Linked DNA regions of Homo sapiens. The protein of the gene in region 6 interacts with the protein of the main gene of each other region in a pairwise test. Each region holds a gene or a part of one and is shown on either strand. Other genes may lie near its edges.

Region 1 (3,500 bases), on a different chromosome or scaffold from region 6:
CCTCCTCTCGGGAACAAACTCTTCTTCCAAGGCAGTTGTCTGTATCTGTCACCTCACCATACAGGATGACAACAAATCCCAGGAAACAAAATGCATGAAACGTGCATGGTAGGATTTTGGGTGATTTTTGTTTCCTTCTTGTTTTATTATGTTTTTCCAATGGTGAACACATATTATTTGTTAAAAGTAATTTGTTACAGAAAAAAGGGGTGTGGGATGGGGAAAAGAGTGAGGAGTAAGCAAAGAAAAGATTCAGAAGAGAGACATGAACCAAAGGGAAGAGGAAATGGGCGCAGATGAAAACAACAGGATGTTAGAACTGACATATCTGATATACCCTAAAGCCTGATTCCTGATACACAGAAGGCACTTAAACATTAGCAGGGCTGAACTAAATATTCTCCCACAGCCACCCTCACCATTTTATAGACCATAAGCCCAGAGCCCACGTGGTAAAGGAACCTCCTGAGCCCACAGAGCTGGTTCCGACCAGCCAGGTCTAGCCCAGGGCTCTGCCCTCAGGGTCTGGTGTTTTGTCTCTCACTCCATATAGAGACAGAAGAATCCAGGGCCAGGCTCAGCACGTAGCCTTCCTCAAACGTGGTCAGCCAGCCATACCTCCTTAGCCAGCCGCCGAGCCTCATAGTAGGGCCGGGCTTTCTCGATGCAGCTCCCCAAGTGGGAACCCTGTGTATTCAGTTTCCTCGCCGACTCCTGTAGGATCCTCCGATAGGTGGTCCTGGCCTCCTGGAAAGGAACAAGGCAGAGGAAAGGCACATGTTTGGGTCCCAGCCCCTCTTGTTTCTCAGACACACCCCTCCCACCGCCACTGCCTCAATCTGGGAAAGAGACAGATGGAGATACTTCCAAGGACCAGCCCAAGCACATAAGGAAAAGGACACTCACATCCAGCTGTAGTTCCACCTGGTTGATCTCCTCGCTGGCCTGGTTCAGGTGCTCCAACTCCTCCTGCCACAGAGAGGGGTGGCAAATTAGTGCAGTGGAAGGAAGTAGCCTTGAATGAACCATGCAAGGCAGGAGCAACACAGAGAGAGAGAGCCCCACTTGCCCAGGGAAATGAGGTGAGACACTCAGGAAAGGAAAGAAGATACGGAGATTGCCAAAAGCTTTCTTGTCTATCAGGGACCTGATACATACAATCTCACGTAATCCTCACAACTCTACCTTGTATTGGGTAGTAAAACCCCAGTTTCAAGGATGAAGAAATTGAGGTTTGGAGAATGCAACACTAATATGCACAACGTGAAGTTGTGGTGAGCCCTCACTCTCTCCGTGAGATTGCAACACTTCCTCAAACTGAGGGAGTCTCCTTGGACCTGAAGGCTCGCTCTCTGCGAGAGGATGGCCACCTGGGCCAGGGCAGGGCCACTCAGTCAGCACATGTTTACTGCACACTTATCACCTCTCAGGACCGTGAGACCTGAGAATTCAGGACATAGAGGTGGCAGCCTGTAAGGAAACCCAGCAAGTCAGCAGCAGGTCCTGGGCAGTATGTGCAGCCTTGTGAGGGGTGGGTGTGGGTGCTCTCTGGGTAGCAAGGTCACCTAATTGGGCAGCAGAAGGTCAGGGTAGGATGCCTGGAACACTTGCTCAGCAGCTGGAAGGACTTCATAGACACAAAAGTGCCAGTGAATGACTAGGCAAGGTGGCTCACGCCTGTAATCCCAGCACTTTGGGAGGCCGAGGCAGGCAGATCACCTGAGGTCAGGAGTTTGAGACCAGCCTGGGCAACATGGTGAAACCCTGTCTCTACTAGAAATACAAAAATTAGCCGGGTGTGGCAGCGTGCACCTATAGTCCCAGCTACTTGGGAGGCTGAGGCAGGAGAATCACTTGAACCTGGGAGGCAGAGGCTGCAGTGAGCCAAGATCACACTACTGCACTCCAGCCTGGGCAACATAGCGAGACTCTGTCTCAAAAAAATAAAGTGCCAGTGAAGAACAAAGGGCCAAGGAACCAAAGGGGAGCAGGTACCCTGGGCAGACAAGTTGGCAGGTGAGAAGGTCAGTAAGGCTACAGCACTATGGGAGGTAGTACCAGGACTTTCTGCAATGGCAAAAGGGTCTCTCAGAGCCTGGTGCCAATGTAACGAAAGCCTGGGGGAGCCAGGGAGACAAAAGTGGAGGCTGGGACAGGCATGGTGGCTCACACCTGTAATCCCAGCACTTTGGGAGGCAGAGGTGGGCAGATCACTTGAGGCCAGGAGTTCAAGACCGGCCTGGCCAACATGGTGAAGCCCTGTCTCTAGCAAAAACACAAAAATTAGCTGGGCGTGGTGGCACACATCTATAATCCCAGCTACTTGGGAGGCCGAGGCACGAAAATGGCTTGAACCCGGGGGGCAGGGATTGCAGTAAGCCCAGATCGTGCCACTGCACTCCAGCCTAGGCGACACAGTGAGACTCCATCACAAAAACAAAAAACAAACAAAAAAAAAAAGGTGGAGGCTGTCTATAGTATTCCAGGTGGCAGAGGAGAGGGCAGATCCCAAGGCAACGCAGGACACAGAATCACAGGGGCTTGGTGGATGACTAAGGTCAAGATCAGGAAAGTGTATAGAGTCCAAGAAGCCTTTTGGCCTGCTTGGGCAATGGGTGACCATGACCGCAGGTCCCTATAGAGCAGATCCTGTGGGAGGGAGGGAGAGTCCTGGGGAAAAGTTGCTGGACAAGCTGGTTTGAGTGCCTTCCTGGCCCCTGGAAGGACTGGAGAGAGAAGCAATAGAACCATCCAGGGCTTTCCATGAAATGGAAGAGAGCTGAGAGGGGTACTGGCCTCAAGTCATCCTCCCTTGCCCGAGAAAACACAAAAGTTCCCAGAGCCCCTGGTGAGCTAAGGACACTACTGAGGAGCAGTGCTGGTCTGTGCCAAGGGCCTTGTGCCAGGAAATACCTGGTGCCTAGCTATAGGATTTGCCTTCACCAGCCCCTGCTGTCTCTGGACAGGAGGCTGGACAGGCCAGAGAGACCCAGCCCAGCATGTGCCTGCTGCCCAGACCCATGACTTGCACTTGGCAGTGACACCACAATCACTTCCCACTCATATGGCCGTGATGTTGGCCCCCACTCACCTCATTCGGGCCTTTCAGCAACCCAGTGAGGGAGTCAGGCTGACATGCACAATCTTCCTTTTAGTCCCTTCTACCTCTTCTATCCTCCCCCCATCCCCTGCCTTGATCCTGAAAAGATCTGGGTCAGCAGGTAAGAATACAGGAAATGGTTTGACATGTTAATTACAGTAACAGGAAGAACACAAAGGTAGAAACCTGTAATGGAACGAGGAATGAGGATATGAAAATGCACACACCTACCTACAACAGTGTAGACCCTGCCTAAGGAGGGCCACAAATCTGGCTCTAAACTAGGGATGTCCAATCTTTTTGCTTCCCTGGGACACACTGGAAGAAGAACTGTCCTGGGCCACACATAAAATACACTAACACTAACTACAGCTGATGAGCTTAAAAAAAAAAAAAAAAA
Region 2 (3,500 bases), on a different chromosome or scaffold from region 6:
TGAAAATGTCAGGCTTCCCTAAATTCCAAAATAGACAATAGGAAAAATATATTAAGTTCTAAGCATCACTGTTAAAATTCCCAGTGACTAAGTTGTTGCCTTTGGAAAGATAGGTGATGTAAAATTTCAAGGAAATAAATTTAAATCGAATATGACATTCCTTTGCGGACCACTGACCAACCTGAAGCAAGTGTTGAGGACTCGCCATCTTTCTCTCAATTTTTCTCAGTCCTTTTATTTTTGTCCCTTCTTTTTGGTTTTCTCAATATTTTCTGTTTCTTCGTTGTCTACTGTTAACTTTAAAATTTTTTTTCTTTTGTGCTAACTGCTAAGACATAATTTACATGTTTTAAAAACAGCACAGATCACAAATGTTTGGCTTGAAGAATTTTGACAAATAAATTGAGTGTGTGTGTATACGCACACGCGTATTTCTTAGCTGGCAACTGGGGTCTAGAGAAGTTGCCAGTTTCCAACTTCTGAAGTATAGTCATGCACCACAAAATGATGTTTTGGTCAATAACTGACTGCATATACAATGGTGGTCCCATAAGATTATAATACTCTTATTTTTACTGTACCTTTTCAATGTTTAGGTATGTTTAGATACACAAGTACTCACCATTGTGTTACAACTGCTTGTAGTATCAATACAGTGACATACGGTACAAGTTTGTAGCTTAGGAGCAGTAGGCTATACCATATAGCCTAGGTGTATAGCAGGCTATATCACCCAGATTTATGTACACCATGATGTTGCCACAAGGACAAAATTTCTGTGTTGTGCCTAACAACACATTTCTCAGAATGTATCCCTGTCATTAAATGAAACATGACTGTATTTTCTTAAGCTTATAACCTCAAATCAATAAGTATTTGTTGAGCACCTCTTAGCAACTCTCCATCATGGTAAGCACTGAGTTGGATTCAAAATTATATGGCTACTTTAAGTTACTGGAAGAAAAAGGACCAGCCCAATTACCTGATTCCTCCCACTATCACCCAAGTTGTTTAACAGAATACTAGATTCAGAGTAAGCCCTTAATATTTAGCAAGTATAAGAATGAAGACTCTGACATCATGAATTAATAAAATTTTATTGAAAGTCTGCAATGTAACCTCTCTGAAGAATTTACAAATGCAATAATTGCCTTTTGTCAGATAATGTTTACTTGACAGTTACTTTTCTTAGTGTTACAGTTTTGTTTGTTTGAGGGAGATTTTCCAGATTGGTTTTTGAAAGGGTAATTTAATCACCTTTCACATTTTAAAACTGCCAAAAGGTATATAGTGACATGTCTCTTACTCAAGTCCTTCTCTGTCTGGACTTAGTTTTCTTTCTTCAAGTAACCAATCTATATCCTTACAGAGGTATGTCTAATATCTTCTGTAAGAATTAAAGAAAGAGGTAAGAAACATGAAAAGATGGCTCGCCAGTCAGGACAGATTTATTTAGAGAAAACAAACGTGAGAGGTGCCTTCTGGCCAAGTTAGGTCAGAGGCACACTCACTTACAAACTAAGAGTTTTTAAAGATTCAGGGTGGGAGAGTTTATCAGAGGCTTGGACTGCTTCTCTGACTCTTTGTTGTGCTTATCTGGGAGGGAGAGTTGTGTGTCTGTTCCCATACATCTTTCTGCAGCTGCAGGCCTATCAGTCTGCATGTAGCTTTTCTATCCTAGTGCACCTGAAGGGAAAGGAATGTGCTTATTAAGGCCCACTATTTTACTGGGGCCCATTGTATGAGGGTGAAGTTTGGCAGTTGCTCAAGAGACTTTCCCCCCACCTCCCTTTGTGCCCAGCTGTCTTATCTGTATGTTATTGTCTGTTCTTTCTGGCTGCTTACAATTAGAAGAGAAGTAATTTCCTTGAAATGCATGAGGCTAGAAAGGGAGCTGGAATTTAAAGTGGTGGTGTTTGTCCCAGATGACAGTGCTCCTGCTCTATCATCTTCTTTTTTTTATACGAATGGCAGCATGCCATAAACACTGTTCTGCACCTTGCTTTTTTTCTTTTTACAGTATATCTTAGCGATCATGACATCATTAAATAAAAACCATCCCCATTATTTCATACCGTAATTGATTTAGCCAGTTCCGTATTGATATTTAAATTATTTCTACTCTGTCCCTATTAAAAACAATGCTATAGTGAATAACATTGTACATAAGTCAGTATGCATTTGTGCACATAAATTGGGAGAACTAATTCCCAAATGTGAGATTGTTGTGTCAGAGAGGTATGTACACTTGTAATTCTGACAGGTTTTGTCAGCCTGCTTTCCATAAGAGATAGTACTAATTTATGCTCCTGCCAGCAATGTATGAGAGTATGCCCCCCTACACTTCCTTCAACCTTTCAATCTTTGCGATTCTGATAAGTGAAAATGGAATCCCAGTATAGTTTTTAGTGTACATTTTACCTGTTTTAAGTAAGACTGAGCATATCTCCACATGTTTGAGAGTCATTTCTATTTCCGTTTCTGTGAACATCCTTTGCCCATTTTTTTCCTGTTGGTTACTGATCTTTTTCTTAATGATTTGCTGAGATATATACATAGGGATAATTGCTCTTTTTTGGTCCTATGAGGCGCAAATATTTTTTCCTCAAGTTTCCACGTGTCTTTTGAGTTTGCTTTTGGTGGTTTTTGCCATTCAGTTTTTTTCCAATGTCAAATTTATAAGTTTTTATATAATGCCTTTTGGATTGCAGGTCATGATTAGAAAGGAAAATTTTGAGGTGGGCACACTGTATTACTCTGAACAGCCTTAGCAAACTTCAAAAAGGAATGGAGCCAAGAACTGCACGGGAGCCCAAGGCAGGGAAGTAGGTAACTTAGCTGAGTAAGGACCTCACAATATAGCTCTACTATAGTCACTTTGACATGGATTTTGAGTACCGTTATATCAGCCAGGGTTCTTATTCCAAACGATAGAAACTGACTAGTTAACTTAAGCAGAAAAGGAAAGATATCAGCTAGCTCAGTGAATCTAAGCAAAGCCTGCATAATAAGGGTCAGAAAATAGAAATGACCCAGGGAACCCATATCCAAGATCCTGCACAAGCCCAAACCTGGTTAGGGCTGCTACTGCCAGTGACATCAGTGCCCCTGGAAACTGGATCCTGACAGCAGAATGAATTAACTTTCCCCACTTTATTGTGTCACTTGCCTCAGATCTATTAAGTCAGTTGCCTCAGATTCAAACTCTTGGGTAGAAGCATTCAGTTGCCCAGACAATCACGAAAATTAAAGACTAATGAAGCTGAAATAATAATTTAACCAAAGACTGGTGAGGAACTAGCTGATGTAAAGTACTTTATTTAGAGTTCTGGTTATATTTCCCTGTCATGTAAAAGTTTCAACTTTAGTAAAGATGATGATCTGCCAAGAAAAAGTTTCATAGTTTGTTTACTCTAAAACTGTGGGATACTTGAGTGATGAATTTATCAGTGCCTTTTGTCATGAGTTCAATTCTAATACATGCAGAGATAAGATTATTT
Region 3 (3,500 bases), on a different chromosome or scaffold from region 6:
ATGCAACTGAAGTCCATTCCACTTGGTGCCCCAGCAACAAAACTGTTACTCACATCACAGCACTGTGCAGCGCCAGGCTTAGTCATTCCACAGCCCCGCTGCAGAGACACCCGCAGCCGCTACCTGCAGCCACGACCCATGGCGCCCGCCCCCTGCAACCACGGCCCCGGTGCCATCACAACTACATTCCATTATACTGAGTTGCCATGACAACCATATTTCACTACCCATGATGCCACGACAACCACAATTCATGACCTACTGTGCTGAGGCAACCAGAGTCTATATTGCCCACAAGCCCACCATGGGAAACCACATTCTGTTAACCACAACTCTATGGCGAGCTCATCCTGCTACCGGTGCCCAGGTGGTGGTGTCCGTCACTCACACCACACAGCCCACTACCTGCCATGCCTTGGCCCCTGTCTCTTGCTACTCCTTTTGTCTTGTTTTGGTTTTTGAAACAAGGTCTCACTCTGTTGCCCAGGCTGCAGCATAGTGGCACCATCACAGTGCACTCTGCAGCCTTGACCTCCCAGGCTCCAGCGATCCTCCCACCTCAGCCTCCCGAGTAGCTGGGACTAATGGGGTGCGAAACTATGCCCAGCCTTTTTTTTTTTTTTTTTTTTTTGAGACGGAGTCTTGCTCTGATACCCAGGGTGGAGTGCAGTGGTGCAATCTTGGCTCATGGCAACCTCTGAGCCCCGGGTTCAAGCGATTCTCCTGCCTCAGCCTCCGGAGTAGCTGGAACTACAGGCACGCACCACCACACCCAGCTAAATTTTGTATTTTTATAGAGATGGGGTTTCACCATGTTGGCCAGGATGGTCTTGATCTCTTGACCTCATGATCTGCTCGCCCCAGCCTCCCAAAGTGCTGGGATTACAGATGTGAGCCACATCACCCAGCCTGGCCTATTTTTTTTTTAATAGATGGGCTCTCATTATGTTGCCCTGGCTAGTCAAAAACTCCCAGATTCAAGGGGCTGGGTGCTGCGGTGGCTCACGCCTGTAATCCCAGCACTTTGGGAGGTCAAGGCAGGCAGATCACCTGAGGTCAGGAGTTTGAGACCAGCCTGGCCAACATGGTGAAACCCCCGTCTCTACTAAAAATATTAAAAATTAGCCAGGCATGGTGGCGGGTGCCTGTAATCCTAGCTACTCGGGAGGCTGAAGCACAAGAATCACTTGAACCCAGGAGGCGGAGGTTGCAGTGAGCCAAGATCATGCCAATGCACTCCAGCCTGGGTGACAGAGGGAGACTCTGTCTCAAAAAACAAAACAAAACAAAACAAAACAAAAACCTTCTGGGCTCAAGCGAGCCTCCCACTTCAGCCTCCCGAGTAGCTGGGGCTAATGGGGTGCAACACCATGCCCAGCTAACTTTTTTTATATATAGATGGGATCTCACTATGTTGCCCAGGCTGGTCTCAAACTCCTGGGCTCAAGGGAGCCTCCGGCCTCAGCCTCCTGAGTTGCTGGGATTACAGGTGCACAACAACACACCTGGATAATTTTTAAATTTTTTGTAGAGATGGGGGTCTTGCTATGTTGCTCAGGCTGGTCTCAAATTCCTGGCCTCAAGTGATCCTCCCACCTCTGCCTCCCAAAGTGCTGGGATTACAGGCGTGAGCCACCACACCTGGCCTCTCACTACTCTTGATGCCATGCTAAGCACAGGCAGCTACCCACAGTGCCATGAGAGCCACATCCCATTATCCCTAAAGCCTCACTGATCCGACCCAATTCCCACAATCCTCAGCAGTTGCATCAGCCTCGCTAGCTCTGGTTATCCACAGTATCCCCTACATGCTCCGGGTCCCCTCGGTCCTCACCGCCTTGCCTCCCTCCCTCCAGGTCTGCACTCCTGAATGTCCTCTGCACCCGGCCCCCAGAAACCTCAGGTGGGGAGCATCACCTGATCGCCCACAGTCCGCACAGGAGATGAGGTCCTCGGGACACCCCGTCTTCTTGGAGCCCCCCAGGCAGAAGTCACAGTAGCCGTTGGGGATGACAGTGCCGTCGGGCGCCTTCTTGGCTGCAAGACAGCAGACAGGCATTGGCACGGGGCAGGCAAGGGCACCCCGCAAAGGTGGCTGCAGACTTTAGGAGCAGAAGGAGGCATCCGTACCTGTGTGTTTCCTTTGTGCCTCAGGGACCCAGGCCAATTCTTTGTAAAACTCTGGGGTAGGGGGGACAGAGAGAGGGACTCTCACCACAGGCAAGGCTCCACCCTGCCCCCAGCCTCAGCCCCAAGGATGGACCTCTTAGTCCAGGCGTGGGGAGCTGGGAAGAGTGAGTAGCTACCCCAAGCTGTGGGGAGAGGTGAAAACAGTTCTCATCGGGACTCCCAACTCTGCCTTTTTAAATTTTTTTTTCAATTAAAAATAAAGGCAGGGTCTTGGTATGTTGCCCAGGCTGGTCTCCAACTCCTGGCCTCCAGTGATCCTCCCACCTCGGCCACTGCCACAAAGTGGCGGGATTATAAGCGTGAGCCACTGCACCCAGCCAGGATTCCCAACTCCTTGAGACAACTGACATGTCCTCTTTATTGGGTCAAAACTTGGTAGACAGCTTGAGGAAGGGCTCCCTGCCTCCCTTCTCACATACATGTCTCCCAGCCAGCCACTCCCAACTGCACCCTCAGTAATTTGTATCTAACAAATTCAGCGAGTACCCCAGCCAAGATCTGGTATGGAAACAGACACTCGGAAGAAAAACTCCGAACACTGAGGTGCGTGGGTGTGTAGTGGCCAGGGGTGAAGACACTCAGCCTCTGCCTCTGAGAGATAGGTGGGAAGACAGTGTCTCCCTACTGCCTCTCCCAAACCCTCCTCCCCTCCCCCATCCTTCAGCTGTCAGAACTGGCATGGGATTGGCAAGGGCGGAAGCCAAGGGCTCCCAGGCCACAGACCCTGCCCCTTGACCAAAGCTTAGCAGAGAAAGGAGAAAGGGAAGGCAGGGCGGGAGGGGAGCCATCTATCACCCCCCCTCCCCAAGCTCTAATTGAAACAATAAATCAGACCCAGAAATATTACGCCCGGCCAGGAGCGAAGGAGCGATGGTTGGTTGCCATGGCAACCCCGGAGCCAGCATCCCCATGGTCGGTGGGGGGAGGGAACGGCTGAGCTGGAGATTTTCCAGAAATGTCTAATGCCCCCCCACCCCCACCCCCAGCTGGGCTCCTCTTCCCCACTCCCAGGGCCCCTGGCCACCCCCACCTGGCCTGCCAGCTCACGTTTATGGTTGTTTTTCCGGTGGAAGGGCAGGGCGTGGCGTTCGGCGTTCTCCTCCCCCTCCTCCTCGGCCAGGTGGGTGTGGGTGTAGTGGTAGCTGAGCCCCGGCCGGTTCTTATACCGTTTCCCACAGACTGGGGAGCGAGCGAGCCAGGAGGGCCTGTCAGCCCCTCCGGGCCCCTGCCGCCTCCACCCTGGCCTCCAGGATCACACCTCCCCCCTCAGCCAGAGACCTGAGCAGCCTCCCAACCCGGGTCTGGAACGG
Region 4 (3,500 bases), on a different chromosome or scaffold from region 6:
AACATAAAGCATCAGCAGTGGTGAAACATTGAGATAATTAGGGTGCCTATTTAAGATTTTACCAATATGCTAGTCAATACAGTTGATACAAAGGAGATATAGAAAGAATGACAAAACAGGGACAAAATTATCAATACGTGGAAATAAAATTAATGAGAAAACTCAGTTAATTGAGAAGTTATTAGAAATAATAAAGGTTTAGGAAGGTGACCAGTTATAAAATGCAAAAATAAAAGCTTTTTAAAAATGGATAGAGAAGTATAATTTACATTAGCAACAGAAAATATACAGAGGGAAAAATATAAAGAAATATACAGAACCTGTAGGAAGAAAACTTTAAAAGTCCATAGTGGCACATACAGATTTTAATAGAGTTTGAATTCTTGGTAAGATGTCATTTCTCCCCATATTGATCTTTAAATGTAATGTAATCACAAAATTTGAATGGATATTCTTTTTTAGGACTCGACATAATGCTTCTAAAGTTTAGGTCTTAGAATAATTGTGATAGAATAGTCAGAAATTTTCAGAAGAATAGAAGGGAGTATTTTTCATATCACCTATTAATTACTTAATTTTCTATGTTTTAAAGTAGCACAGCATATGAAGAAGAAAAAAATAGGAAATTATAAAGAAGATCCAAGTATAATGATAGAATTATAAATCAGGAAATACCTTAGCACATTTGGATAAGCATTTGACAACATATTTAGCTGGATCCCTGCTTTATACTCTGTACCAAAATAAATTCCAGATGGATCATAAATTGAAGGAAAAAAGCTCTTAAGGGTATTAGAAAATATGGGTGAATTGTTTTTTATCGTTTTGAATCAGGAAAGGCCTTGCTATGCCTGACAAACATGAAAGTAAAAGGTAGATTTAAGTAAGTGATTCAGATTTCTGTATTACAAATAAATACTGAGAGATATTTAAACTTGGGAGAAATTTTGCACTTATTTGACAAACAAATGATTTATTATTTATACTATACAAATTTTAGATCAGAAGAATCTCTTAATCATTAAAAAAATCGGTAATCCCATTAGAAAAATGGTCATATTAGAATTAACATTGTACAAAAGAAGAACTGTATTTGACCAATAAAGACATGGAAAGATGTTTAACCTCAAAAGTAAACTACAGGGAAAAGAAACAGTGACATACTACTTTGCCTTTAAGTTACAAAGTATTTAAAAGTGGCAGTAACCCATAGGAATTTTTTTTTTTTTTTTTTTTTTGACAGAGTCTCACTCTGTACCCCAGGCTGGAGTGCAGTGGTATGATCTCAACTCAGTGCAACTTCCACCTCCCGGGTTCAAGCAGTTCTCCTGTCTCCGCCTCCCAGGTAGCTGGGACTACAGGCGCACGCCACCACGTCCAGCTAATTTTTGTAATTTTAGTAGAGATGGAGTTTCACCATATTGGTCAGGCTGGTCTCAAACTCCTGACCTCAGGTGATCCACCCACCTCGGCCTCCCAGAGTGCTAAAATTACAGGCATGAGCCACCGCGCCCGGCCAGGATTAAATATTATAAGATTCACTCATGAACTGTTAATACAAATGGAAATTGGTATAATGTTTTTGGAGGGTAAACTGACAATGTGTATCAATAAGTTACCAGCAACACTAACCCATTAATCCTACTTCTGGGAAGTTATTTCAAATATATTATTAATCAAATATGCAAGGAGAATTACAAAGATATTCATTAAGAAGAATATCATTCAGGAAAATAGTAGGAAGAGAGTTTTTTTTTATACCAGCTATTAATTACTTAATTTTCTGTGTCTAAAATAGCACAGCATGTGAACAAGAAAAAAATAGGAAATTATAAAGAAGATCCAAGTATAATGATAGAATTATAAATTAGGAAATACCTCCATGCATTTGGATAAGCATTTGACAAAATTTTAGCTGGATCCCTACTTTGTACCAAAATAAATTCCAGATGGATCATAAATTGAAGGAAAAAAGCCCTTAAGGGTATCAGAAAATATGGGTGAAAAATGACGACCTGTATTTCCATCAGTAGAGATTGGCTAAATAATGATCCATCCATAAAGCTGTATAAAAGAATGCTGAATAACAAGTTCATTGACATAAGACTTCAAATACATATTGAATGACAAACACAGGTTCAAGATAGTTTTTTCTTTGAGTCATGTCAATTTCATATCTGGTTAAAAATAGCACACTTGACTAGGCAAGAGGAGGAGGCTATCAGTGTAACACATTCTGAGGCAGTTTTTAATATAATTAGATTTGTGAAGTAAGGAAATTAAATGCCATAGTTACCCATGAACAGCTGGAAAACTATATACTTCCTCAAATCTAAGCCACCATCAATTGGTGCCAAATAATTCCACCATTATCTTATATCACTAAGAAAGAATAAACATGCTGCCAATTAAAACACGAAGGCATCACAGATTGTAAGACATATCTTGATATCAGAGCCAGAATCAATGAAATACAAGCTAGTAACAGACTAAGGAGGAAGAAGGAAAAGATTAGAGCAGAATTTTTTCAGGACGTATTTACATTTATTAGTGAGATAATTCTTATTAGTCACGTTTCAAGAAATGTGAGAAATAATTGTCTTTAAGGTTACTTTTTGCACTTTGTACTTCTCAGAATATGAACAATGTGTTCAATCTTAGAGTGTTTCCTCTGACCTTGCTTGTTGATTTTCTGTAACATGTCTTTTCTAGTTTGCAATGGATTTTGGATAAACAAGATCTGTTGAAGGAGCGCCAAAAGGATTTAAAGTTTCTCTCAGAGGAAGAATATTGGAAGTTACAAATATTTTTTACAAATGGTAAACTTTTTTAAAAATTGGTTCAAATTGTATAGTTGGTTACCTCTGAATAAAAATGTTTTTGTGTGGTAATTTGTGAACTGTTTTAGTGCATACCTAACATTTTTGCTTATACAGGTATTCTTTTTACAACATATTCATTTATCTTTCTTTTTAGTGATCCAAATAAAGTTTTTTTGTGTGAATTTTACATATCACAGGCACTCAAGACAATTTGAAAGTGTTACCTAATCTCCCTAAGACTTTATAATAATTATTAGACCCAGTTCAAGGTTGGCTAAAGCAAAGTACTTTGAGGATAAATGATTCTTTGGATTGACATCCTATAGTGGTCGTTTCTCTTAGAACTTTGCTTTGAAGGGAAGAAGATGTAGGGATAGATCTTTACTCTGACATGTAGTAGGTTTGTCACATAATTTTTTTAACTTTCGGTTCACTATTTTGTAAACTTATCTTTTTTTTGAGGATTCGTTATGGATTTTTATGTATTATTTATTTATTTTGGTGAGCTGTATAAAGCTAAGTGTGGTGGCTCACACCTGTAATCTTAGCACTTTGGGAGGCAGAGGTGGGCAGATCACTTGAGGCCAGGAATTTGAGATGAGCCTGGCCAACATGGTGAAATTCCCTCTCTACTAAAAATACAAAAATTAGCTGGGCGTGGTGAGGCACAAGAATCAC
Region 5 (3,990 bases), on a different chromosome or scaffold from region 6:
CCTCGGCCTCCCAAAGTGCTGGGATTACAGGCATGAGCCACTGCGCCCGGCCTTACTCTGATTTTCTTAAACTCTCTACCATGAGGTAGCATGAGTCCCATTTCACGGATGAAGTAACCGAGGCTCAGAGATATAAAGCCACTCACCCCAAGTCAACACAGCTAGTAAGAAACAGAGCCTGAGGCTGGAAAGCAAGTCCATCTGTCCCCCACACCCACGCTGCCTCCTGGACAGTTACAGCTGCCGAACAAGAAAGGAAATAGAATGTCAGGTACCTTTCTGCGTCCTGGTCTGCACTCTGCTGTTTGCTCTCAAAGGCGTTGAAGCTGCTCATGTCCACGTAGCCATCATTTTCGTTTGCTGTGGACAGGGCTCTGCTCTGATCTTCAAACAGCTTCGTGAACGCGCCAGCCCTGGCAGGTCTCCGGGGTGGAATCTGGATATTCTCATAGTCCGAGTTCATGGCTGGAATGTTCTCATAGTCTGAAGTGTCAGCGCTGGGGAAGGAGATGGACCGTGGCTTGGTCAGTGGCAAGGGCAGGAAGGGCGGCCGGGAGCGGTCTTCAAAGGACTCCACTCTGGACACCGTCCTGCTGAAGGGGACACCTTTCCTCTTGCCATCTCTATAAAAGATGAGGGAGGAGGGGGATTCAGAAGCCCGGAGCTTCCCAGTCCGAGACTTAAGCTGAGGGGAGTTGCTGAGGCTTCTCCGGTCAACTTCCAGAATCCTGGAAGGCCCGTGGTAGCTGGACTCTGAAGAGGACCTAGAGGAAGACACGTTCACATCCACATGCAATTTGTTCTCCGTCTTCTTCTTAAACGTCAGTGCCAGGAAGCGCTTAAAGGATGACTTCTTCTTCTTGTACTTGTCCGGGGAGTCGCTCTCGATCAGGAGTGAGGGAGAGCTCTTTGTGATGGGCTTCTTGGTGATGCAGGCCAGGTCGAAAGGAGGTGGGATGTCGACCATGGAAGAAGGCGTGGAGGTGCCGCTGGACGGAAGGTGGTTTCTCTGGGAGAAACTCCCAGAGGAGCCAATTACACACGACAGAGAGAGATTGTCCTCTTTCCTCTTTATCCTGTGGTCATCCAACCCTGACCCCTCAGGCTCCTGGTACACGGACACTGGAATCTCTCGGCCTTCCACGGAGAACGACCGAGGGTATAAAGTAAAGGCCCTGGGCTTTGCTGGCAAGGCCCTGCTGGCTTCCAAGGGCTTCCCCTCCAATGACAAAAGCGTCTTTCCCACCTCCTCTGCGGCACCTCCAATGCCAGGGGCTGACGAGCCCGCCTCAGGTCCGGTTTCTTCAGGGACGGTTTCTGGGACATAGCCGGCCACCTTCCCAGAGTGGGGCCGGACCCTCGTGCTGGTGTTCTTCCTGTCCGCGGGAACCAGGCCACCCTCTGCCTCACAGTTCAATTCTTCTTTCGAGCCATAACCACCCAGGGCGTCCGATGCAGCCTGCCCTCCTTCTCCAGGGGCCGCCTGACCGGGCAGGCCCACTCCCATCACATAGGGGTTGGCCAGTGCATCATCCAAGGCCTCCTCCTCCAGCACGACCACCACATCAGGGGCTGCGGGACCCTCGGCCGCTCCACCCTGTAGGGAGCCACACTGGCCACACAAAGCCCCCACCATGGGGTTCTCCTCCGCACGCAGCCCCAGCTTTGGTGCCTGCTCTGATTCTAAACCTTTCGCTGATTCAGAAAGAGGAGAACAGCTCTCGCTGCAAAAAGAGGTGCTCTCAGTTGGGAAGAACTCATAGGGGCTTCCTGTGAGGGAAGTCACGAAGTCCTCCATGCAGTCATTCTCAAAAGGGACAATCTGGCAGCTCTCCTCGGCGGACTCATCCTGTGCATGGTCCTCCAGGGTGGCGGCTGCCACTTCTTGGTTGGTTTTCTTCTCGTGGTCAGGTGGTTCACTGAGGTCAACCTGTTCCCCACCTGTGACACCCGTGGCCTCTTCACATCCCTCCTCAAGAACTTCAGGGCAGTCTGTGGCTGTCTCTGCCTCCTGGACCCCGGCCAGCTCCTCCTTCTCAGGGGGCTCCTCACTGGTGTCCTCAGCATCCTGTCCCATGTCCTCCGTGGGCCTGTCAGGACCCGAACCCTCATCTGCCCCTGCTGGGTCTGTGCTGGCACAGCCTTCCTCATCATCCTCCTCTGCCTCCCCGGGGGTGTCGGGGGGCTCCTGGTCCTCTCCATGGATGTGAGGCAGGAGGAGGTCGCTCTGGAAGACCCCCTCTCCAGCCCAAGGCCCACTGTCCTCCAGGCTGCACTCCCTGTGTGGCTGCACTAGCTTCTCTTCCTCCTCACTTCTGGACACCTGCTCCAGTGTCCCTGGCTCATCAGCGCAGCCCTCCCCTTCATCCTCAAGAGCAAGGTCTGTGCCTTCCTCACCCTCCCTGCTCAGCGCTCCTGCACCCGGAGCAGCAGGGGCCACTGAATCCTCACCAGCTCCTGTACCCTCCAGGCCACATGCCTCGCCTCCCTCTTCACGCTCCTCTTCCTCTTCCGCAGAGGACTCGGGAGACACCAGGGCTTTGTTCCCCACACTGCCCTCGTCCTTGGGTTCATCCTCCCTCAGCGGAACCCTGGGGACCACGATGTAATCCTCGTCGGTCTCCGACTCAGAGCACTTTGGGATGGACCGGGGCCCCTCATCAAGCCCCCTGTCTACACAGGGCAGCCGCCCGTTGCTGCATTTGTTCAAGCTGTCATTCAGGTACACACTGGCTCTCCACTCGTTTGGGGCAGTCAGCCTGGGCTTGGGGGCAATGGGGGGCTTCGGACCCCTGAACATGGAGTTTGGACTGTGAAGACTCTCGGGCCTGGCTGAGGAAGGGAATTTGGGCGCGGTCACTGGCGTCAGTGGACTGGTAGTCTTTGGCTTGGGAGCGACAGGTGGTTTTGGTGAATCTAGATGACAAAAATAGAGAAAAGGAGAAAAAGTACAATTAACTTTATTGCCATTCAGAGTCTCCTACACACCAGTTGCAGGGGACGCCACAGATGGTTCCGTCCATCCATGTGAAGCCCACCTCCCGTGCTTTGTCTTAGGCTTATGCCCTCCACCAGAATCTTTAAAACCCCTTGATTTTCCACTAAAGATTCATTCTGTAAACAAAGTGAACAGACCTTTCTTCTACACGCAGCCCAACTAACGAAAATCAACCAAATGAAATCCTGTGCTCCTCAAATGAAGTGTCCAGGTCAGTGCATTCATTCATCCAGCAGCTACTGATAAACACTTTCTATGACCCAGCAACCATGGGAAAAGGCTGAACTTGCTGTCACCCTCCCTGCTGCCCTCATGGAGCTTACATCCCCCCTTCTACAGCTACTCCATTGGGTACCCACTAGCTACACGCACAGCACTGCAGATGGCAGGGTCTCCTAGGGTCAAGAAGAGAAAACAGACTCTGCTGAGAACTCACAGTTGAGTTACAACAACTGGAGGGTAGAGCCGGGGACCCTTGGAATATTATGACTGAATAGCTGCCATTTCATCCCTTCATGAATGACACGCCAAAGGTTTGAAAGAGTGATGTGTGCTTCTGCTGGGGGTCACGTCTGGAATCTGCATGCTTCAGGACTGTGTCCAGCCAGGCCTACACCCAAATTTCATGGGCATGCAAATTTCATGGGAGAAATTATATAGTACGTGCCAACATGGATCTCTGGAAAAGGATGTACTTGCCACATGGATATCTGTGGATGCTGAGGACCTTCTGACCATGGCAGAATAAAAGATGTGGTGCAGACTACAATGCAACTGGAATTAGAGAAGCATGGGCTGCTGTGGCCAGGGAAGACCTCTTAAAGAAGGTGATATTTTAGCTAAGATTTGCAGGATAAGAAGGATCTAGAGAAGGGGAACGGTCAAATGAGTGGTTGCCAACTTTTGAGCTCAGCATCTCTCTGCTACAAGACTGCCCATGCCTCCTCCCTGGCTTCCTTGTCACCTGCCTGGCCCCCTAAGCTCCCTTGCAT
Region 6 (3,500 bases):
GTCAAGAATTTACAGACATTAGGTCTGAGTTAAGATATTTTTTAAAAGTACTTGCTTGAGTCATCCACATGTACCCAGAAGTTACCCAGATTCAAGAATTATGAGCAGATGACCTAAAAAACAAAAATTCTATCTCTTTTTTGTCACTGGCTAATGCCCAATTCAATGGCATGGATCCTGTAGCTACTCAAAAGGAAGGGTAATTCAGAAGGAACAGCAACAAATAAATTTGTCAAATCAGTCAGGTAAGTCTAAGGTACCAATACACTAAATTTCTCTGCAAGGCCTATATCCTACTTTGTTATTTTTTCCTCTACATTACCTCTACATTACTTATAATACCTTACACAATGTAAATGCTATAAAAGTTATTATACTTTATTTTTAAAAATTTGTATTTTTTTGTTGTTGCTTTTTTAAAGACTATTTTCCATCGCAGTTGCTTGAATCTCTGGATACAGAGGGTCGACTGCAAATGGAAATATTTTAGTTTTATTCTCCAAACAAAAATTATTTATTTCATCTTATTTATCTTCCATTTTTGTCAAATGAAAAAGTAAGAGTAAAGAGGCAGACACTAAAAACAAGAATAAGTAGTAACAACGTAAAGTCACAAGTAACCACTGGAAACAGTCACATTTAACACTGACTGACTTATGGGCTTATACTGCAGGAAAGAATACCTGTGTATTTGTTTCATTCATTCAACAAGTATTTTACTGAGCACCCATGATGTGCCAAGAACTGTGCTCAGCACCTATAGGCTTCTTAAAAAGTACAGAACATAGCCCCTGCCCTCTAAGAGCTTACAATCTATTACTTGTTGGAAAATTAAAGCAAATTAAGAAACCATAAAACAAGTCAATAACTAGGTGCCAAAATAAGTGAAACGGTAAGAGTTATGGGTAGATTACAAATATTTTCTTTAATAATCTGAAGGGGAGGTATATGTTGGCAAAAGTCATTTTTGAGAAACTTTTGGAGAAGGCAGGACTTGAAATAGTACAACATAGGTAAGCAAAGCAAACTTCATGGTGATACTGAGCTGGGGGCAGGAGGGTAAGAAGAACAGCCTAAGTTTGAAGTTGTGAACTAATATAATCACTCAAGACACCGTGAAAAGACCAGCCTAAGTTCAAATTAGGGAGTGTAAAGACATGCAGCCTTGAATCCTGCTTTGACATGTACTATGGGGAGGTTCTTTAAAGTTAAGCTGTGGAATTTAGATACTATGTTATAGGCACTGAAAGTACTGGAGATTCTTGGGCAAGGAGATAACACATTGAAATCTAAAATTTGTGGGGGCAGGGGGGCATCCTTGAAGCAAGAAAACCAACTCAACTCAAAAACTGTTGAATAACCTAGGCATGGGAGAGTGACGACTTGGGCTCATGTGGTAGCAGGAACTGAAATAAAATAAGATCTATTAGAGCCAGCCTTACTCAATATAGGAGCAAGAAAATCAAACTCATTTGTAAAAAGCAATTATTCATTTATCAGTTTACTGACCAAAGACCAAAAAAAAAAAGCACTGAATAAATAGAATTAGGGAGGCATTACTAAAGGAATTTTCTGTTCTTTCCATATCATCCCATAAAATCTGATATCTACTCTTATCAAATGATCTGAACTGAATCATAGGATGTTAGAGCTGAAAGGGACCTTAACTCAATTACTCTACTCTTCTCACTGATAGAGGAAAATAAAGACTCAAATAGGGAGGAAAAAAAAAGAGCCAGCTAGCATGACTCTGGGGCAAAGGCATAATCATCTGTGATAAAGATGGCAGGACCTGCATGTCCTTTGTGTAGAAAACACAAAAGACATGAAAACAGTATTTACTATGGACACTGAGGAAGAAGACAGCCTCACACATAATTTTATTGATAGAAATCTCTACAGAAAATCTTTATTTTTTTGAGATAGGGTCTCACTTTGTCACCCAGGATGGAGTGCAAGGCGTGATCTTGACTCACTGCAGCCTCGACCTCCCAGGTTCAAGCAATCCTTCTGCCTCAGCCCCCTAAGTAGCTGGGACGACAGACGCACACCACCACACCCAGCTTATTTTTAAATAGTTTTTGTAGAGATGGGGTTTCACCATGTTGCCCAGGCTGGTCTCCAACTCCTGAGCTCAAGCGATGCACCCGCCTCAGCCTCCCAATGGGAAATTTTTGAGTACTGCCATCCAGCAGGGAAAATTCTTTATCTTTCTTTACTAACATTTAACCAGTGATCCTCAAAGCATCTTAAATCACATATTATTTAAAGCTTAAACAACCTGTAAGGTCCCTTTCAGCTATAAGATCCTATAACTCTAAAAGTATGACTTTCCTATAAAGTTATATAGAATAAGAGGCAAATTTAATCTACAAGATAGAAAACTGAAATAAACCTGAAAGAATATTAAGCTCAATTTGATAATCATCAAATATTTATTACTACTAAGAGTCAGCCTAAATGCATGAGATGGCACTCTAGGTCATCTCATGAATTAAGAAAAAAAAAATTTGAACACACCACTTCTTTAAGCTAAATAGCTTGATGCATTTGAGAAATTATGAACCCTGGCTTCCGTACATCATTATGCTACCCAGTCTGCATATTATTTTACAAACAAGTTTTACAGTTTCATGTCATATTGGTAACATTCCAAAGACCACAATTATTTGGCAAGTAAGACTGCCACCAATTTTAGTCTTTAGCTAGTCCCAGCATGAGATGTTCATGCAAACCAGTCAACACATGAAGGTTTTTATAACCTTCAGTCCCAAAGTCTAAAGAATTTGTGAACTGACTTTTTTAAATTGCATGGCAGAACCCTCCCAACTGTCACTACTGTGAATGATACAGACAGACATCCTGCTTCTTCTCAATTATCTTCTGACCACTTATTCCTCCTGAGTACTTCCAAGAGTGGCAGAAGAAATAATGCAGGAAAAAGGATCAATTGTCCTATTTATTATCACCTTTAATTTTTAAAGCAATGTTTACAGAGTTTCAAATATGATTTCTGATTTGAGAATTCAAATTATCCATGCTCTCCCAGTCTGTTATAAAGCTAAAACAAGAATTTGTTTTACCAAGATTTGGGACCCATATTTGTTAGTGAAATATTAAGGGGATAAAAGGGAATTATATAATTCTGACAAAAACAGCGGAGATTCTTTTGGGACTTTCAGGGCATAACTCCTACTAAAACATTTATTTATTATACTAACAGGAGCCTTCAGAGGGAGAAGAATTCTAAACATCTAAATAATTAGGTCTACTTAAAGGCACGTGGCATATATTAGCCTAGGAAAAAGTAGAAGAAAACCACACCAAAAAAATCAGTTATTTGAATGGATGTGTACCGAGTAGCAAGTAAACTTACTAGAAAGATGGTCACTGATACAGCTAAAGAGAAAGGGCCATAAAGCAAACTGTGACCAGCTTATGTCAATGAGATACATGAAAGTACTTTTAAAAAATAAAATCTGCATTTTTTTTTTTAACTA
Region 7 (3,500 bases), about 33 Mb from region 6:
TGGGGGAGGCAGCGGGTAAAGGGAGGGAAAAAGAGAGAGAAAGAGGAAGGTGACTTAAGAATTCTTAAGTTTACCTTAAGCTTACTTTAGGATTTGATATTTATTTCTGATTCCATAGTGGATGCCAAGGGTGAGTAGGAACCATAAACTTTCTAATACTTACAGTCTCTAAAACAGTGGTTTTCCCAATCCTTTTCCCAACTTGGCAACAAAGAAAATAATAATTTCTTAGCACGTTGGGATAAGCCACAAATGCTATTCAAAGCCAAAAGAAACCATCCTGGGGCAGGGTGGGGAGGGGGATCTGATATGCCCAGGTCCCATTAAACAAGGGTATCTTGCTCTCCGAAACACTGGTAAACCATTCATGGCACACCAGTTGGGAAGCTCTATTTTAAAGGTCTTAAAATGATCCCACTCATTGCCCAAACACAAGGACCCTCACAAGACTTCATTTCCCACTGCAATCAACGCACATGCGCGCGCGCACACACACACACACACACAGATTCACACACAGGAACAGACAACCACACCCACCCAGACAGAGACAGACATATCCAACAAGACAACTTACATTTCTCCAAACACACCACACATTCTTTCATACTTTGACTTTTTCTATATGCTGTTCTCTCTACCCAGATCAATTCCAAATGATCCTCCAAGACCATATTCAAATGCCACTTCTTTTCCCCAGATCTTATTACACTGTCACTATGAATTGTTAATTGTTTGTTGACATGTGTTACCACCCTAGAATTTGAGCTCAAGGACAAGAATCATGTCTTATTTACCTTTATACCACTGCTCCCACTACAATGGGCATTTCAAATGTTTGCTTAACATATAAAGGAATGTTCATTACATCATCACCAAATAAATTTTCAAATTACATTAATTAAAACAATGAAATACAATTATAAAATTAGCATTTTTTTCTTCCCAAAACAAGAACAACCACTGTAGGTACTTCTGTAAGAGAGAGATCTGGCACAGAAATATTCATGACACTTGACCATTATCCCAGTCCTAGGGTTTTAAACTGAGGAAATAAACAAAAAACCGCTTAACAAAATGTAAATGTCTAAATCAGTTATGGTATATCACCTGAATGTTTAACTAATCACTTAAATTATATTCATTGACCTTGGTGGCTTTGGGTAGCTAAAATAAATAAATAATATTCATGAAGATGGGAATAGAAAAATGAAAAAATAATACCAACTATCACTGACTGATCATCTCTTGTATTTAAAGCACAGCGCTAGATGCCTTACATATAGTATCTTAATCCCCACAATTCAAGACCACCTGACTCAGAAATGAGACACTTTGCCCAAGGCTTTTGACGCTAGATTCCACACCAGATTTGACTCCTGACTCAGAAATCAGACAGTTTGCCCGAGGTTTTTGACGCTAGATTCCACACCAGATTTGACTCCAAAGTCTGTGATCTTTCCCCTACATTGCACAGCCTCCACCATACAATGTTCCCATTATATTCCTCTCAAAATTCTCTCTACCACACAACTTTATTTTTTAAATATGAACAATTACCTGGAAAGAAACAAAAAATAGCTATTATGGTGGTGATCAAGGGTAAACGTTGTTACAGTATTTATCCTTTTTAAAAATTAGCAACTTTTAAAAGTAGCATTGTTGAAAAATGAACTAAATTCATAAGACAATACAAAAGACGCTATTCCTATTTTAATTTTTTTAACCTAAGAAAATTAAGGAAACAGAGTAGGTAACATAAAAACTTAAGAAAAAAAAAAAGCTTAAGAAGATATTAAACTATATCTAAACAAGCATATATTAACCTTAGGGTACTTATTACCAGGATTCATTAACTGATCCTTGTGAGTGGATTAAGCAGCATTCTTCCAGAAACAGGTGAATTTTGAAAAAGGTTTAAAGAGGAGGCACATGAATTGGAGACAGAGATGTTTAAATTATGGAAACGAGGACAAAGGAAAAAACAAGACTATTTTCTTTTTAAGCACGAATGAGAAACAAGGTTAATGAGATGAAGTTGGTAGAAAGTCTTCAAGGTCAAGCAGGTAAATTTGGGATTAATTTGATAAGCACCGGGGAACTCCTATATATTTTTAAACGGGAAGGTGGCATGTTAAAATATGGCCTTTAAAGATTCAAACTTTGTTCCATCATAAAGTACTGCCTTGAGTTACACAATGTTTTTGCCGAACAGTTGGGGAGGTGGGGAATAATCCACTATCCTTTATGTGTGCTTTATACATACGCTTCTCAAAAAGAGAAACTGACTAAACAGAAATCTTTAGGTAATGGGTGAGCATATTGGGGAGGGGATCCTTTCAGACATAATGCTTGTGAATATTGAATGCTACTGTATGTTTTAATAACAGTCACAGAACTTCAGGCAAGAAGGAACCTTGGAGATAATCTCTTAGTGGCGACCCCTTCATTTTCACACCAGATTAGACTGAAGCCCAGAACTAAACAACTTGCCCAATGCCATGCATAAACCAGTGGAAGATTAAATACTACAACTCAGATTTTCTAAGCAGTCAGACCTAAAGCTATGCTCTCCAATACTATAGCTACTAGCCACATCTGGCTATAAATTTAAATTGATTTAAATTAAATACAATTTTAAATTGAGTTTCTCAGACACACTCGTCACATTTTAAGTGCTCCATAGCCACACATGATTAATGGCTACCATAACTAACAGTGCAAAAAATATTTCTATGATATTTGTCAATTATACTTCAATAAAGTTGAAGGAAAAAAGAATATTTCCATCATTGCAGAAAGTTTAATTGGACAGAACCGATCTAAAGAATAAGTTTTAGAGAATTCCACTTACTAGAAGTATGAGCCTAGACAAGTTATTTCATTTCCCTTAGCTTCTATTTGGCAGGGAGAGGACAGGGGATTAATAATACCTACCTCATAAAGCATACTTGGTGAGTGGGACAACATGAAAAGCCCCTTATACAGGATCTGACACTTAACAGACAATAAATATTAACACTCTTCCCCTCTGGGTCCTTTTTTCTTTCTACTACTCTATATAACCTCCTTGTTAAAAAATACAAACACAATAACCAACCCAAATTGATATTTTCCTCATGATAGTCTATACGATGTAATTTTCATTTTGTTCTTACTAATTAATTCAAATACTTGCATCTCTCTTCCAAAGTTTCTACTTAAGAATAATGAAATGAAGAATGAATGTGAGGGAAGATATCTCTAATGAAATGAAAGAGTCTAATAAATTTCCCCTCCTCTTTTTCCCCATTCATGCAAAAGATAAGAAATTATGCTGTTCCTAGACAATGGTACTTTCATATCAATAAAGAAGATTCTACGGTATTTCTACATTATATCCTATCTCATCATCTATACTACTCATTAAATATTAAATGAAGAGATAACACCTCCTTCCTACAGTGCTTTCCTGGCAAACAATAAAAAGGATTTTCAGAATGCTAAGCCAAACTTCAAGG

Evidence for each region.
Region 1: the proteins of PRPF40A (region 6) and SH3BP5L interact in binary tests that used the Homo sapiens proteins (3 or more experiments, as listed by UniProt).
Region 2: the proteins of PRPF40A (region 6) and SREK1IP1 interact in binary tests that used the Homo sapiens proteins (3 or more experiments, as listed by UniProt).
Region 3: the proteins of PRPF40A (region 6) and DPF1 interact in binary tests that used the Homo sapiens proteins (3 or more experiments, as listed by UniProt).
Region 4: the proteins of PRPF40A (region 6) and CCNC interact in binary tests that used the Homo sapiens proteins (3 or more experiments, as listed by UniProt).
Region 5: the proteins of PRPF40A (region 6) and FGD5 interact in binary tests that used the Homo sapiens proteins (3 or more experiments, as listed by UniProt).
Region 7: the proteins of PRPF40A (region 6) and PTPN4 interact in binary tests that used the Homo sapiens proteins (3 or more experiments, as listed by UniProt).

Annotation. Positions count from the first base shown.
Region 1 is NC_000001.11:248,815,916-248,819,415, forward strand, and holds part of SH3BP5L (SH3 domain-binding protein 5-like), read right to left. Parts: intron 970-3,500; coding exon 907-969; intron 748-906; coding exon 619-747; intron 1-618. UniProt on the Homo sapiens protein: Functions as a guanine nucleotide exchange factor (GEF) for RAB11A.
Region 2 is NC_000005.10:64,758,692-64,762,191, reverse strand, and holds part of SREK1IP1 (protein SREK1IP1), read left to right. Parts: intron 1-2,711; exon of another isoform or gene 2,712-3,500. UniProt on the Homo sapiens protein: Possible splicing regulator involved in the control of cellular survival.
Region 3 is NC_000019.10:38,214,223-38,217,722, forward strand, and holds part of DPF1 (zinc finger protein neuro-d4), read right to left. Parts: intron 3,370-3,500; coding exon 3,238-3,369; intron 2,182-3,237; coding exon 2,131-2,181; intron 2,038-2,130; coding exon 1,918-2,037; intron 1-1,917. UniProt on the Homo sapiens protein: May have an important role in developing neurons by participating in regulation of cell survival, possibly as a neurospecific transcription factor. Belongs to the neuron-specific chromatin remodeling complex (nBAF complex).
Region 4 is NC_000006.12:99,562,161-99,565,660, reverse strand, and holds part of CCNC (cyclin-C), read left to right. Parts: intron 1-2,712; coding exon 2,713-2,819; intron 2,820-3,500. UniProt on the Homo sapiens protein: Component of the Mediator complex, a coactivator involved in regulated gene transcription of nearly all RNA polymerase II-dependent genes.
Region 5 is NC_000003.12:14,817,882-14,821,871, reverse strand, and holds the start of FGD5 (FYVE, RhoGEF and PH domain-containing protein 5), read right to left. Parts: upstream 2,801-3,990; coding exon 276-2,800; intron 1-275. UniProt on the Homo sapiens protein: Activates CDC42, a member of the Ras-like family of Rho- and Rac proteins, by exchanging bound GDP for free GTP. Mediates VEGF-induced CDC42 activation.
Region 6 is NC_000002.12:152,710,962-152,714,461, forward strand, and holds part of PRPF40A (pre-mRNA-processing factor 40 homolog A), read right to left. Parts: intron 1,407-3,500; exon of another isoform or gene 1,343-1,406; intron 1-1,342.
Region 7 is NC_000002.12:119,762,922-119,766,421, reverse strand, and holds part of PTPN4 (tyrosine-protein phosphatase non-receptor type 4), read right to left. Parts: intron 1-3,500. UniProt on the Homo sapiens protein: Phosphatase that plays a role in immunity, learning, synaptic plasticity or cell homeostasis. Regulates neuronal cell homeostasis by protecting neurons against apoptosis.